Regions from separate parts of the Homo sapiens genome. Here regions 2 and 3 are each linked to region 1. Evidence: fine-mapped expression QTL. A gene starts in region 1. Each other region holds a variant in brackets. All regions are shown on one strand. Distances are between the middles of the regions.

What was found. PIP is the estimated chance that this variant, and not a neighbour inherited with it, causes the effect.
Region 2: its variant is fine-mapped to the expression of MTX1 in whole blood (INTERVAL, PIP above 0.99).
Region 3: its variant is fine-mapped to the expression of MTX1 in whole blood (TOPMed, PIP 0.93).

What each region holds. Positions count from the first base shown.
Region 1 is chr1:155,205,923-155,210,922 of GRCh38, forward strand. MTX1 (metaxin 1) reads left to right here and starts at 2,773. Exons shown (of 8, transcript NM_002455.5): 1 at 2,773-3,410; 2 at 4,424-4,493; 3 at 4,626-4,705. The coding sequence starts at 2,883. It overlaps THBS3 (thrombospondin 3), which reads right to left and starts at 1,975. Exons shown (of 23, transcript NM_007112.5): 1 at 1,876-1,975; 2 at 278-484. The coding sequence starts at 1,954. RefSeq lists an enhancer at 976-1,759 and a silencer at 3,123-3,322.
Region 2 is chr1:155,154,115-155,160,748 of GRCh38, forward strand. No RefSeq gene overlaps it. Among named protein-coding and RNA genes, the nearest start is that of KRTCAP2, 16 kb to the right of the region's middle. The variant G/A (reference allele first, on the strand shown) is at 2,812.
Region 3 is chr1:155,739,677-155,744,676 of GRCh38, forward strand. No RefSeq gene overlaps it. Among named protein-coding and RNA genes, the nearest start is that of DAP3, 53 kb to the left of the region's middle. The variant G/C (reference allele first, on the strand shown) is at 2,734.

The sequences.
Region 1 (5,000 bases):
CAGAGACATGCCTCACCCTCCTTCCAGGCATCCCCAAGTACAACCTCCCATCCCTATAAATATCAGGACTCAAGCCTCACCCTATTGTTTGGTACATGGGCTCCTAAAGCACCTTATAAGCACCCCATACCAGGTGCCCCTGATGTCTGGGCACAGCCTGATGGGACCTTGGTCCCTAGTGGAGGCCAAGGAGAATGAGGAAGCACTTGGGAAGTAGGGATGAGGGAGAGTGCTTAAGGAGGTCACCATTGCAAGAAAGGAGATGCCCACCAGTCACCTTTGTTGATCTTGCCTACAACAGAGGCCTCCAGCCATCGAGTGTTGTCTTGGCGAGAATAGAGGCCAAAGAGGACACCACCCTGCTTGGGGGGCAGGCGGAAGGTGGATAAGAGGTAGATGTCCCCAGCAGTGAGCAAGGCTGTCCGGATCTTCTCTGCCACAGCTACCATCTGCCGAGACTCGCCCACAGTCAGCAGGTCAATTACTGGTCAGGCAGGGGTTATCAAGGTTAGAGAATGGGATCAAATGCTAAGGTATGCCCTCCCCCGAGCCCACATCACCCCCTACCCCCACCACCAGGCAGCGTTAGTCACCTCAAAATTCAACCCTTGGCTGGGCATGGTGGCTCGCACCTGTAATCCCAACACCTTGGGAGGTTGAGGCAGGTGGATCGCCTAAGGTCAGGAGTTCGAGACCAGCCTGGCCAACACGGTGAAACCCCGTGTCTACTAAAAATACAAAAACAACAACAAAAAAGAAAAAAAAACCACCTAGCCGGGCGTGGTGGCGGGCACCTGTAATCCCAGCTACTCAGGAGGCTGAGGCAGGAGACTCGCTTGAACCTGAGAGGTGGAGGTTGCAGTGAGCCGAGATCGCGCCATTGCACTCCAGCCTGGGCAACAAGAGTGAAACTCCATCTCAAAAAGACAAAACGAAAACAAAAAAAAACCTCAACCCTTGTTGCTCTCAGAGGACAGAGGCACTGTGCCTTCCTTTCCCCATTATTGCCTATTACTACCTTCCAGGAACCTGCAGGTTTGAGACTCACTTGGAAACACAGAAACAGCACCCCACAAATTTGAGATGCCCCCACCAGGTGGCGCAAAGGAGATGCTGTGCTGATCCCCCACAGGAGTGGCACCTGGTGTCCACAACGTAGAAATGGAAGGCAGCTTCTCTTTCCACTCCTGGGTTTGGCTCGTTCCACACCCTAGTTCCCCTCCTCCCATCCTAGGGGCGCAGCACACTCGCTCTGGATAAGAACAGCTGCCCACTGAGGACTCTAACCCTCCCACCATCTGGGCTATCTCCCACGGGAATGTAGGACCCAGCTCCTCTGCCTCCTGTGTCCTGGCCAATCTGTGGTTTTCCCTCCAGCCAGTAAAGAATCTATGCCTGTGTCATCTGCTCCAGCTACCTCTCCCACATCCATCGGCCCATCCCACCACCAGACCTCCGGGAGAGCCCAGGCTTCTTGGTCCCCACCCCCGCCCTGTCCTTGGGCAGCCAGGAGCCCAGGGGGACGAAGCCCAGGGACCTACAGTACGCCCACCTTCAGGCTGCTCTCCCAGACCCTAGGGTGCCTACAGATGCTCAGGAACCACCCCAGCCAGGCAGCCTGAGCATCCAGTTCCTGAGTCCTCTGCCCTGGCCTCATGCCTGACCCTGTCCTGTTCCAGCTCCCCCACTACTCTCCGGTGCCCACTCCTCTCCACCAGGCCATAATTTCACCAACTCTAGGCAGTCTTAAGTTTTCCTCTGGCTCAATTTCTGGACTCTTCCCCTCTCCCCTTGCCCACATGTTCTCTGCTACTTGGGCTGAGGGCAAATGGGGAAGAAGCAGAGAGCGGTCTAAGAGGATGGAGACAGGCTTACCCTGCAGATCCTGACTGGCAGATGTGAAAAAGCAAAGGAGGAGAAGAGCCAGGGCCCCCCGAAGTTCCTGCGTCTCCATGCCTCTCAGCCGGCTCACTACCCCTGGCAGGCAGGCAGCTGGGAGGGGAAAAGGCTAGGCGGAGAGAGCAGGAGCCGGGGGGCGGAGGGACAGAATTGGAGGGGGGGCCAGCAGGCGGGTGAGGGGGGGCTGAAACAAAGAGCTGCCAATCACCCTGGAGGCATCATCAGCTCTGGGAACCAGGGGCACTGGGAAAGAATCCTGGAGGCCTCCCTGCTTTCTACCTCTCCCTAATGATCCTCCCCCAGGTGCCTCCCTCTCCGCAGTCATCATTGTTGGGGGTCTCGGCACACAGCGCTACCGAATGCCACTGTTTTCTGGAAGCCACGATTGTGGAAGGCAAGAACCCCTGGCAGGGGCAGTGCTAGACAGTGGGCATTATTCCACAGCTGGCAGGAAAGGATGCCAAGGGAGTGGCCGCAACTAGCTTGCTATAGTGCCCAGGGATGCCCACATGGCATGAATTTTGCTGTTCTGGCGGAGCAAGTGCTCTTTATTAGGGTGGGGGGTCCCCTGACAAGTGCCTGTTTCTCCATTTTCCCTCATTCGTAGGAAAGCTTGGGAGTCTGGAAGCGTCTGACGGGAACTGAAGGGAGAATCTAAAGCAGTGGTCAGTGAGGTCAGAGTGAAGAAACCAAAAAAGAGGAAAGGGACACCAGGGACAGGCGCAGAAGACCAGGGGTACAGGCGAGGAGCCAAGGACCAGACTGTGGAACACTGTGGGTACTAGCGGACGGGCCGTGACCCGGATGAAGCAGAGGGGCGCCTGAGTTCCCGTCACCTAAGCGACAGCCTGCGAGCCTCTCTTCCCCTCCCCCACCCAAGCCCCAGCCCGGCCTCCGCTCCGGCCGCCGCCACCGCCCCTGTTTTGTTTCCATGGCGACAGGCGGCGCAGGGCCCGCTCCAAACATAACGCGCTGTGGAAAACATGCTGCTCGGGGGACCCCCCCGCAGTCCCCGCTCGGGGACGAGCCCCAAGGGGCCCTGGAGCAGTACAGGCCACGTGCAGTTTGGCAAGAGCCCCCAGACCTGGCCCAGGCGCACAAGACCCCGCTCTCCAGAGCCTGCCGCGCCTTCAGGGGTTCGGGGCTCCACTTGGACGAGGCGCCGTGACTCTCCGAGGCGCGCCGGGCCGACAGCGCTGTCCCGCTACGTGGGCCACCTCTGGATGGGCCGGCGGCCGCCCTCCCCCGAGGCCCGCGGCCCAGTCCCCCGCAGTTCAGCTGCCAGTCGGGCCAGAAGAAGCCTCGCCTCCCCGGGGATCTCCCCAGGCCCCCTGACCGCAACGATCGGAGGGGCGGTGGCGGGGGGCGGGCCCAGGCAGGGGAGGGCAGAAGCACACAAGGAAGTGTTTCCGGGACAGAGGGTGGGCAAGATGGCGGCGCCCATGGAGCTGTTCTGCTGGTCAGGGGGCTGGGGGCTGCCGTCAGTGGACCTGGACAGCCTGGCCGTGCTGGTGAGGGGTGGCGCCGGCGCCCTCTGCTGTGCCCTGATGACTGGGGAGGGGGCCGAACTAGCCAAGCATCCAAACCTTGCCAGGGCTACTCAGCACGGGCGCAGTGGGGGAAACTGAGGCAGTCAAAGAGCGTACGTGGCCGATATGGCCTCAGTGCCCTATGCTGTAGTTTTCTAGGCTTAATGCAGCAATGAAAAGACGCCTGGTTGGGAGTTCAGGTGATGGGTTCTAGTCCTTGCTCATCCATTCACTGGCTGTGTGACCTTGCGGAGATCCTTTCTCTTTGGGCATTTTTTTTCTCCATTCGGAGGTTTACTAGGCTGGACTGTCTCAGGGACCTACTCTAGCTTGGAATTCCTGCCTTCTCCTCAGCCCCCTTCTCCTCTTCCTCCTCACTTAACAGCATTTACTGAGGCTATTGTTTGTTAGACCAAACGACTCACAGCCAGGCTTTGTATAAAGAGCTTAGCAATCAGACTTCCTTTGCTTCATTTATTCATTGACTCCTTGCTTTAAAGAGGATCTATTAGATTTCTTCCAAATATTAAACATTGCCAGGCAAAGATGAATAAAATTTGGTTCCTCCCTTCGAGTTTACAGAAAGGCAGATAGGTAAGCAAATAAATATAATAAAATATTCACATATAAGTTAAAGTAGGAACAGACCACAGATACTGCCAAAGAGAAGGGCATTATCAGTGCTTCCAAGAAGAGGGATACTGGTTAGGAAAAGCTTCTGAGGATAGATGTTCACCAGGTAGATGGCAAGAGAGGAGATAGAGGAAAGGATTTTCCTGGCTGTCCTGTAATCACAGACATGTCCGGAATCTCTCTGAGCCCTGTGTTGTCCATTTGTAAAATAGAAATGGTAGTGACTCCCCCTTTTTTTTCGAGACTAAGATACTAAGTATAGGGAATGGCACATAAGGTATTCAATAAATGTTATTTCTCTTCTTGATACCACTGTGGGGGACATGGCTCTGCCTCTCTGACTTCTGCTTCCTTCCCTGCAGACCTATGCCAGATTTACTGGTGCTCCACTGAAGGTACACAAGATCAGCAACCCCTGGCAGAGCCCTTCAGGTACCCAGTATCCCTTGGGGGTAAGGAAGGGTGTGTACAAGGGGAGAAGCAAGAAATAGGCAGGAATGTGTTGCAACTATGTATGACTAGGCAGCTAAGGGTCTGGTTGGTATACTTCCCTCTCAATATCAGGAACTCTGCCTGCCCTTCGGACCAGTCATGGAGAGGTCATCTCAGTTCCACACAAGATCATCACCCACCTTCGAAAAGAGGTAGGTGACTTGGATAGAGGGGGCTGCCAGTGAGAGAAGTTCAGTCAATTCTATACAATACACATTTATTGAGCACCAGATATATGCCATGCTAGATGCAGGTGACCCAGAGCATCAAGGAGCAACAGTCTTGTGGCAGAGACACACACAATGTCACTGTGATGTATTAAAGCAGTCGGCAAGAGATGAAACTTAGGGCACTGTGAGGCAGGGAGGGAGAGGAGCACAGGCTGAAGGAGAGTGGAAGACAGCAGTTGGCCTCTGATGGTGGGACTGGAGAGAGATTTCTAAGGGC
Region 2 (6,634 bases), 51 kb before region 1:
AAACTAGCTGGGCGTGGTGGCACATGCCTGTAATCCCAGCCACTTGGGAAGCTGAGGCAGGAGAATCGCTTGAACCCAGGAGGCAGAGGTTGCAGTGAGCTGAGATCACGCCGTTGCACTCCAGCCTGGGTAACAAGAGCGAAACTCTGTCTCAAAAAAAAAAAAAAGAAAAAAGAAATAAAGAGCATCCAAACTGGAAAGGAAGAAGTCAAATTATCCTTGTTTGCAGGTGATATGATCTTATATTTGGAAAAACCTAGACTTCACGAAAAAAACATTAGAACTGATAAACAAATTCAGTAAAGTTGCAGGATACAAAGTCAACATACAAAAATCAGTAGCATTTCTCTATGTCAATCGTTAACAATCTGAAAGAGAAATCAAGAAAGTAATCCCATTTACAATAGCCATGAATAAAGTTAAATACCTCAGAATTAACTTAGCCAAAGAAGTGAAAGATCTCTACAATGAAAACTACAAAACACTGATGAGGCCGGGAGCTGTAACTCATGCCTGTAATGCCAGCACTCTGGGAGGCCAAAGTGGGAGGATTGCTTGAGCTTAGGAGTTTGAGACTAGCCTGGGCAACATAGTGAGATCCCATCTCTACAAAAATAAATAAGAAAGAAAGGCTGGGCACGGTGGCTCATGCCTATAATCCCAGCACTTTGGGAGGCCGAGGCAGGTGGATCACCTGAGGCCAGGAGTTCAAGACCAGCCGGGCAAATATGCTGAGATCCTGTCTCTAATAAAAATGCAAAAATGAGCCGGGGGTGGTGGTGTGCACCTGTAGTCCCAGCTACTCAGGAGGCTGAGGCAGGAGAATCACTTGAACCTAGGAGGCAGAGGTTGCAGTGAGAGGAGATCACGCCACTGTACTCCAGCCTGGGCAACAGTGTGAGACTCCATCTCAAAAATAAATAAATAAATAAATAAATAAGAAAGAAAAAGAATAAAACACTGATGAAAGAAATCGAAGAAGACACAAAAATATAGAAAGATATTCCATGTTCCTGGATTGGAAGTATCAATATTGTTAAAATGTCTATACTACCCAAAGCAATCTACAGATTCAAAGAAATCCCTATCAAACTACCAATGACATTCTTCACGAAAATAGACAAAACAATCCTAAAAGTTGTATGGAATCACAAAAGATCCAGGATAGCCAAAGCTATCTTGAGCAAAAAGAACAAAACTGGAGGAATCACATTACCTGACTTCAAATTACACTACAGAGCTATAGTATGCAAAACAGCATGGAACTGGCATAAAAACGAACACATAGACCAATGGCAGAATAGAGAACCCAGAAACAAATTTATACACCTATGGTAAACTCATTTTTGACAAAGGTGCCAAGAACATACACTGGGGAAAAAAACATTCTCTTTAATAAATGGTGCTGGGATAACTAGATATTCATATGCAGAAGAATGAAACAAGGGAGGCAGATTGCACAGGAAAAAAAAATGGATGAAACTTGACCCCTGTCTCTCGCCATATACAAAAATCTAATCAAAATGGATTAAAGTCTTAAATCTAAGACCTCAAACTATGAAACTGCTACAAGAAAACATTGAGGAAACTCCAGGACATTGGTCTGGGCAAAAATTTCTTGAGTAATATACCATAAGAACAGGCAACTAAAGCAAAAATGGACAAATGAGATCACATCAAGTTAAAAAGCATAACAAAGGAAATAACAACAAAGTGAAGAGACAACCCACAGAATGGAAGAAAATATTTGCAATCTGATAAGGGATTAATAACCAGAATATATAAGGAGCTTAAACAACTCTTTAGGAAAAAAATCTAATAATCTGATTTTAAAATGGGCATAAGATTTGAGTAGACATTTCTCAAAAGAAAACATACAAATGGCAAACAGACATATGGAAAGGTGCTCAACGTCATTGATCATCAGAGAACTGCACATCAAAACTACAATGGGATATCATCTTGCCCCAGTTAAAATGGCTTATATCCAAAAGACAAGTAATAATAAATGCTGGCAAGGATGTGGAGAAAAGGGAACCCTCCTACACTGTTGGTGGGAATGTAAATTAGTGCAAGCAGAGTTTACAGATGCCTCAAAAAAACTAAATATAGAGCTACCATGTGATTCAGCAATCCCACTGCTGGGTGTATACCAAAAGAGAAAGGAAATCAGTATATCAAAGAGATATCTGCACTCCCATGTTTGTTGCAGCACTGTTCACAATAGTCAAGATTTGGAAGCACGTTAAGTGTCCATCAGCAGATGAATGGATAAGGAAAATGTGGCACATATACACAATGGAGTACTATTCAGCCATAAAAAAGGAATTAAATTCTGTCATTTGCAACAATATGGATGGAACTGGAGGTCATTATGTTAAGTGAAATAAGCCAGGAACAGAAAGACAAACATCACATGTTCTCACTTATTTATGGGTCCTAAAAATCAAAACAGACCAGGGGTGGTGTCTCATGCCCGTAATCCCAGCACTTTGGGAGGCTGAGGTGGGTGGATCACCTGAGGTCAGGAGTTCAAGACCAGCCTGGCCAACGTGGTGAAACCCCATCTCTACTAAAAATGTAAACATTAGCTGGGCATGGTGGCTGGCACCTGTAATCCCAGCTACTCAGGAGGCTGAGGCAGGAGAATCACTTGAACCCAGGAGCCGGAGGTTGCAGTGACCCAAGATCACGCCATTCCAGCCTGGGCGACAAGAGCAAAACTCTGTCTCAAAAAATACATAAAAAATTAAAAACAGGCCGGGCACGATGGCTCACGCCTGTAATCCCAGCACTTTGGGAGGCCGAGGT[G/A]GGAAGATCACGAGGTCAAGAGATCGAGACCATCCTGGCTAACATGGTGAAACCCCATCTCTACTAAAAATACAAAAAATTAGCCGGGCATGGTGGCACGCACCTGTAGTCCCAGCTACTTGGGAGGCTGAAGCAGGAGAATCGCTTGAACCTGGGAGGCGGAGGTTGCAGTGAGCCAAGATTGCACCACTGCACTCCAGCCAGGGCAACACAGCGAGACTCCATCTCAAAAAATAATAATAAAAATAAAATAAAATAAAATAAAAATAAGTAAAAAAACAAAAATAAAAATAAAAACAATTGAACTCATGGAGATGGAGAATAGAAGGATGGTTATCAGAGGCTGGGAAGGATAGTAGGGGGATGTAGGGATGGTTAATGGGTACAAAAAATAGCTAGAATGAGTAAGACCTTGTAGTTAATAGCACAACAGGGGGATTATAGTTAATAATAATTTAATTGTACTTTTTAAAATAACTAAAAGAAGATAATTGGATTGTTTGTAACACAAAGGACAAATGTTTGAGGGAATGGATACCTAATTTTCCATGATGTGATTATTACGCCTTGCATGCCTACACCAAAATATCTCACGTACCTCATAAATATATACACCCACTATGTACCCACAAAAATTAAAAATAAAACAATTTTTTTTTTTGACAGTCTCGCTCTGTCGCCCAGGCTGGAGTGCAGTGGCACCATCTCGGCTCACTACAAATTCCGCCTCCTAGGCTCAAGCAATTCTCCTACCTCAGCCTCCCAAGTAGCTGGGATTACAGGTGCCCACCACCATGTCTGGCTAATTTTTGTATTTTTAGTAGAGATGGGGTTTCACCATATTGGCCAGGCTGGTTTTGAACTCCTGACCTCAAATGATCTGCCTGTCTCGGCCTCCCAAAGTGCTGGGATTACAGGCATGAGCCACCGCACCTGGCCACAATTTTAAACAAGTATAAATAAATAAATAAATAAATAAAACTGTATCAGTGGACTTTTCATACTCTGTTACATTATGATTCATTGGTTTCTCTTGCACTTTGCATAGATCCTTTACTCTTGCATAATTTTGTAATATTTGAAGATATTAATATTGACTCACTGAGTGATGCTAATCTTCCAACTGTTGACACTTTATTATACAAATGCTTCTCGACTGACTTCTGATGGGGCTACACCCCCATAAGTCCATCGTAAGTTGGAAATATTGTAAGTCGAAGTGAGTTTAGTGCACCTAAACCACCAAACATATAGCTTGGACTAGCCAACCTCAAACATGCTCAAAACACTTACATTACCCTGGCCAGGCATGGTGGCTCATGCCTGTAATCCCAGCACTTTGGGAGGCCAAGGCGGGCAGATCACGAGGTCAGGAGATCGAGACCATCCTGGTTAACATGGTGAAACCCTGTCTCTACTAAAAATACAAAAAATTAGCTGGGCGTGGTGGTGGGCGCCTGTAGTCCCAGCAACTTGGGAGGCTGAGGCAGGAGAACGGCGTGAACCTGGGAGGCGGAGCTCACAGTGAGCCGAGATCGTGCCACTGCACTCCAGCCTGGGCGACAGAGTGAGACTCCATCTCAAAAAAACAAAACAAAACAAAACCCACTTACATTAGCCTACAGTTGGGCAAAATCATCTAACACAAAGCCTATTTTATAATAAATTGTTGAATATCTCATAAAATTTATTGAATACTATGCTGAAAGTGAGAACAGAATGGCCGTATGGGTACACAAGTTGGGGTTTCTATCAAATGAGTATCGCTTTCACACCATTGTAAAATCAAAAAATCATTTATTGAACCATCATAAGTTGGGGACCATCTATCCAATAAGAACAAATAAAACCGCCAGGTGCGGTGGCTCACACCTGTAATCCCAGCACTTTGGGAGGCCGAGGCAGGTGGATCACGAGGTCAGGAGATTGATACCATCCTGGCTAACATGGTGAAACCCCGTCTCTACTAAAAATACAAAAAATTAGCGGGGCGTGGTGGCAGGCACCTGTAGTCCCATCTACTTGGGAGGCTGAGGCAGGAGAACGGTGTGAACCAAGTTGGTCCCTGAGTAGTGGCCCCACCCCTTAGAGGGGTGGGCAGCCCCCCTTGTATGCCTGTCAGGCAGTAGGGATTTCTGGATGTCCACAGGTGTCAAGGTAATTACTAGGTCCTTGGGGAAGGTTTCAGGTAGTCAGGTTGTGTTGACTTCATCCCTGCCCTCAGGGCACCCACAGTTCCATAGGGCAACAGGACAAAAGCACATGCAATTAACAAAAACACAGACAAACTTTTAAAAGGGGAGTAGTGGAGAAGGGGCTGGGTGAGTCAGGGTTTCCTAGAGAAGGTAAGCTACAAGAGACGAAGATGGGAAAATATGATAGCCTGAAGGTGGACAGACTCAGGAACAGGTCTGAGCAGCTGAGAAAAACATCTGGATCATTCTGAGGATTCAGCAATTTGGAGTTGATGCAGGGTAGAAGTTGAGTTTCAACAAAGGGCTCAAAGTACAAGAGTGGTGTGTTGCCAATGGGGTTCTTGGTTCTTCTTCTTTTTTTTTTTTTTTTGAGACAGAGTTTTGCTCTTGTTGCCCAGGCTGTAGTACAATGGCGCGATCTCGGCTCACCACAAACTCCACCTCCCAGGTTCAAGTGATTCTCCTGCCTCAGCCCCCCGAGTAGCTGGGATTATAGGCAAGTGCCAACACACCCAGCTAATTTTGTATTTTTAGTAGAGATGGGGTTTCTCCGTGTTGGTCAGTCTGGTCTTGATCTCCCAACCTCAGCTGATCTGCCCGCCTCAGCCTCCCAAAGTGCTGGGATTACAGACGTGAGCCACGGCACCTGGCCCTTGGTTCTTCTTTTAATAAACATTTGTTGAACACCTACTCTATGCCAAACAGCATTCTAGTGGACAAAATAGACAAATTCTCTGCCTTCAATGAACCTTATACTCTAGTGATGGGAGACAGACAAGACAAAAATAAACATTTAATATACCAACTAAACCTGCCCAGTGGCTCATACCTGTAATCCCAGCACTTTGGGAGCCCAAGGCAGGAGGATCACTTGAGGCCGGAGTTCAAGGTCAGCCTGGGCAACATAGACCTCATCTCTACTAAAAATAAAAATAACATATATTCACCAAGTAGTGAAAAGTACTATGAAGAAAAGTATAGCAAGGTAAGGGGCTAGAAGGTGACAGGCTGTACTGTGTCATATAGCACGATCAGAAAGGCCTGTCTGAGAAGGAGACATTTGCACAGAGACCTGAATGACATACAGAAGAGAGAAGTGTAGATATCTGCTGAGAAAGCGTTTCAGGCACAGGAACAGCAAGTGCAAAGGCCGCGAGGTGGAAACGTGCCTGGCACAGGGGACATGCAGGGTCTGGGGGCAGGATGGAGTGAGTGTGGGGAAGAGAGCAAGGAGGCGACATCAGAGAGGTGGCAGGAGCCAGATGGTGTGTTGTAACCATGCACTGTAGTCATGCTGGTTAAGCAACATGGTGGGCACAGATGGATCTGAATGTGAACTCCAATTCCGCCTTCATTTATCGGTTGTGTATAATCTTGAGCAGATTAGCCTTTCTTTCATTTAACCCCATTTCATTTTACTGAAACAGGGTGTATTAGTCAAGGGTTCTCCAGATGATCAGAACCAATAGGGTGTGTGTGTGTGTGTGTGTGTGTGTGTGTGTGATCCTGGTGCTGCCCCTCAGGAACTCTCTCTCTTTCCATGTGTATGTATATGGCAAGAGAAAGAGAGGGAGAGGCACAGTGGCTCACTCCTGTAATCTCAGCACTTTGGGAGGCCGAGGTGGGAG
Region 3 (5,000 bases), 530 kb after region 1:
GACAGTAATATATAACTATCAAAGTAGTATACTAATAGGTTGTATATTATATATTGTATATGACAATATATAGTATATTACTCATAATATTGGGTCCTATATATTATGTATATGTATTATATATGTTATATGTATTTGTATATATTTTATATATATGTTATATATATATTTTTAATTTATATTTATATATTTTTAAGAGACAGTCTTGCCCTGTCTCCCAGGCTGGAGTGCAGTGGCATGATCACAGCTCACTGCAGCCCCAACTCCTGGGTTCAATCAGTCCTTTTGCCTGAGCCTCCCTAGTAACTTGGGACCACAGGTGTGTGCTACCACACCTGGCTAATTTTTTAGTGTTCAGTAGAGACAGAATGTAGCTTGGTTTCCCAGGCTAGGCAATATGGCAAAACCTCAGAGTGAGAGAGACCGAATCTCTAATAAATAACTTGAACAAAATAACTGCTAAATGTACACTAGAAACCATATTCCTTTTTCTTTTTTTTTTTGAGACGGAGTCTTGGTCTGTCACCCAGGCTGGAGTGCAGTGGTGCGATCTCGGCTCACTGCAAGCTCCGCCTCCTGGGTTCACACCATTCTCCTGCCGCAGCCTCCCGAGTAGTTGGGACTACAGGCACCCGCCACCGTGCCCGGCTAATTTTTTGAAATTTTAGTAGAGACAGGGTTTCACCGTGTTAGCCAGGATGGTCTCGATCTCCTGACCTTGTGATCCACCCACCTCGGCCTCCCAAAGTGCTGGGATTACAGGTGTGAGCCACCGCGCCCAGCCTAGAAACCATATTCCTGATGATAATTTAAAAGATCTTACTAAATGGAAAGATTCTCCATGTTCATTGATTGGAGTACTCAGTAATAAGATGGCAGTTATTCCCATATTGACCTATAGATTCAATGCAATCATTATCAAAATTTCAGAAGGTTTTTTGCAAAACTGGAAAACTGACCAAGCACGGTGGTCCATGCCTGTAATCTCAGCATGCTGGGAGGCTGAGGTGGGCAGATCACTTGAGCCTAGGAGTTTGAGACCAGCCTGGGCAACATGGAGAAGCCTAGGCTCTACAACAAATACAAAAATTAGCCAGGTATGGTGGCATGCGCCTGTAGTTCCAGCTACTTGGGAGGCTGAGGCAGGAGGATCACTTGAACCCCAGAGGTTGAGGTTTCAGTGAGCCGTGATCATGCCACTGCTCATCCTCAGCTGCAGAGTAAGACCCTGTCTCAAAAAACAAAAAGGAAATAAAAAAGGGAAACTGACCTAAAGTTTATGTTTTTATTAATATTATTTTGAGACAGGGTCTCACTCTCTGTTACCCAGGCTGGAGTGTAAGGCCACACTACAGCCTCGACCTTCTGGACTCAATCCTCCTACCTCAGCTCCACGAGTGGTTAGGACTACAGGCACACACCACCACACGTGGCTAATTTTGATTTTTTTTTTTAATAAAGATGGGATCTCACTATATTGCCCAGGCTGGTCTCAAGCTTCTGGACTCAAGTGATCCACCTGTCTCAGCCTCCCAAATTGCTGGGCGTATAGGCTTGAATGACTTTGGCCAGGCTATAACCCCATCGTCTGTTTCTGGGAAGACCTAATGCACCCAAACGCAATGCTACCCTTCAAGAGACAAATCTAAAATTGCAAGTAAAAATTCAAAAGAGGGCCGGGTGTGGTGGTGCACGCCTATAATCCCAGCACTTTGGGAGGCCGAGGCGGGTGGATCACCTGAAGTCAGGAGTTTGAGACCAGCCTGAGTAATACAGTGAAACCCCGTCTCTACTAAATACAAAAACATCAACCGGGCATAGTGGCGGGCACCTGTAATCCCAGCTACTTGGGAGGCTGAGGCAGGAGAATTGCTTGAACCTGGGAGGCGGAGGCTGCAGTGAGCCGAGATCGCGCCACTGCAGTCCAGCCCGGTGACAGTGTGAGACTCTGTCTCAAAAAAAAAAAGTAAGGATATAAAAGATTGAGTAGCATGATTAACACTTGTCCTAATGGAAGTATTTTTAAAAATTGAATCCCCAAACAACTTTTTTTTGGTAGAAGCTCTTTTACATTCACATACTTTATTTTTAATAGCCTAACTACAGTTATCCTTTTCTTTAACCCAGGAAGGCAGAGAGAAAAGAGAGCAAATTAAGTTGCCTAAAGCTGAACTTGGACATCATCAAACTTCTAGAAAGGCAGATTATGAAATAATGCTTTAATAAACATATTATTAATTTAATAAGCATCTGTTGTTCTAAAAAGTAGAAAATACATCAGGTCATTATTGTTGACCCTTAAACAATAACGTTTTTGGACTGCATGGGTCCACTTATTCACATATATATTTTTTTTAAAGGGTCTTGCTCTGTTGCCCAGGCGGGAGTACAGTGGCATGATCTCGGCTCACTGTAACCTCTGCAACCTTGGTTCAAGCTATCCTCCTGACTCAGCCTCCCTAGTAGCTGGGCTTACAGGTGCACACCACCACGTCCGGCTGTTTTGTATTTATAGCAGAGACGGGGTGTCACCATACTGGCCAGGCTGTTCTCAAACTCCTGACCTCAGGTGATCCGCTCACTTCGGCCTTCCAAAGTGCTGGGATTACAGGTGTGAGCCACCGAGCCCGGCCTCACAGATCTTTTTCAATAGAAGTTATACGGAGTGGACCTGCCTTTCTGGCCTCACCTTCCACCTATCAAATCCCAAAACTTCTGAATGTACTTTCTTTT[G/C]AAGCACATAAAGAACCTGTTCAAAATTGACTGACAATGGACCATAAACCAGCTCAATATATTTCAAAGAATTTAAATCATACAGCCGTGTACTCTGATTCTAATGCAATTTAAACTAGAAACCAGTAACAAAAAGAGAAATAGAAACTCCTCATGTGTCTGGAAATTAAAACATACTTTTCTGATGTGCCCATTGGTCAGGGAGAAAGATCAGAATGGAAATGAGAAAGTAATTCAAATTAAATGATTGTGAAATTACTAAACACAAAACTTAAAAATTTTGTACGTTGAAAATACTGGCTGGCAGGGCACAGTGACTCAGGCCTGTAATTCCAGCACTTTGGGATGCCGAGGCGGGAGGATTGCTTGAGCCCAGGACTTCAAGACCAGCCTGGGCACCATGGTGAAACCTCATCTCTACCAAAAATGCAAAAATTGACCAGGCGCAGTGGCTCACGTCTGTAATCTCAGCACTTTGGGAGGCCAAAGCGGGCAGATCACCTGAGGTCAGGAGTTCAAGACCAGCCTGACCAACATGGCAAACTCCTGTCTCTGCTAAAAAAATACAAAAATTAGTTGGGCGTGGTGGCAGGCGCCTGTAATCCCAGCTACTCGGGAGGCTGAGGCAGGGAAATTGCTTGAACCCAGGAGGCAGAGGTTACAGTGAGCTGAGATCACGCCACTGCACTCCAGCCTGGGTGACAGAATGAGACTCAGTCTCAAAAAAAAAAAAAAAAAAAAAAAAATTAGCTGGATTCGTGATGGCACATGCCTGTAGTCCCAGCTACTTGCGGGAGCTGAGGTGGGAGGATGGCTTGAGCCCAAGAGGTTGAAGTTGCAGTGAGCTGTTTGTACCACTGCACTCCAGCTTGAGTAACAAAGTGAGATCCTATCTCAAAAAAAAATAAAAAATTAAATTAAAAATTAAATATTTTAAAATATTAAAATTGGCCAGGTGCGGTGGCTCACACCTGTAATCCCAGCACTTTGGGAGGCTGAGGCTGGCAGATCACGAGGTCAGGAATTTGAGACCAGCCTGGCCAACATAGTGAAACCCTTACTAAGAATACAAAAATTAGCCGGGTGTGGTGGCGCATACCTGTAATCCCAGCTACTCAGGAGTCTGAGGCAGGAGAATCGCTTGAACCCGGGAAGTGGAGGTTGCAGTGAGCTGAGATCGTGCCGTTGCACTCCAGCCTGGGCGACAGGACGAGACTCCGGCTAATTTTTGTATTCTTAGTAGAGAGGGGGTTTTGTCATGTTGGCCAGGCTGGTCTCGAACTCCTGACCTCAGGTGATCCACCCACGTCAGCCTCCCAAAGTGCTGGGATTACAGGCATGAGCTACTACGCCAAACCCAGATCCAGTATTTTAAAAGGATAATCAACATAAATGAGTTTGGGATAATTTTAGGAATGCAAGATAGTATTACATGAAAATCAGATGTATTCATTAGTGCAACAAAGGAATGATAAAATAATGTAATTATCTTAGTGCGGAGAAAGCTGTAAAAAACATTCAAATCTATTCATGACCAAAATTCTTAGCAAAACAGGAATACAGAATTTCCTTAAGCTGTCAGAGTACCTACAGAAACTTTTCAGCCCACATCATACTTAGAAGTGAAATGGTAGCTGCGCACAGTGCCTCACACCTGTAATCCCAACACTTTTGGAGGCCGAGGTGGGCAGATCACTTGAGCTCAGGAGCTCAGGAGTTTGAGACCAGCCTGGGCAAGACGGTGAAACCCCATATGTACAAAAAATAAAAAAAATTAGCCAGGTGGTGGTGGTCCATGCCTGTAATTGCAGCTATGCAGGAGGCTGAGGTGGGAGGATCGCTTCAGCCCAAGAGGTTGAGGCTGCGGTCAGCCGAGATTGCACCACTGCACACCAGCCTGGGCAAGAGAGTGAGACCCTGTCTCAAAATAAATAAATAAGACTAAATAAATATGGAATTACAAGGAGCTCAGAATAGACAAGAGAGGCTAAGATTTTATTTTTTATTTTCAGACGGAGTCTTGATCTGTCGCCCAGTTTGGAGTGCAGTGGTGCTATCTCAGCTCACTGCAATCTCCACCTCCGGGGTTCAAGTGATTCTCCTACCTCAGCCTCCGGAGTAGCTGGGATTACAAGCGCCCAACACCATGCCCAGCTAATTTTTGTATTTTTAGTAGAGACGGGTTTCACTATGTTGGCCAAGTTGGTCTACAACTCTTGACCTCAGTGGTCCGCCGACCTCGGTCTCCCAGACTGCTGGGATTACAG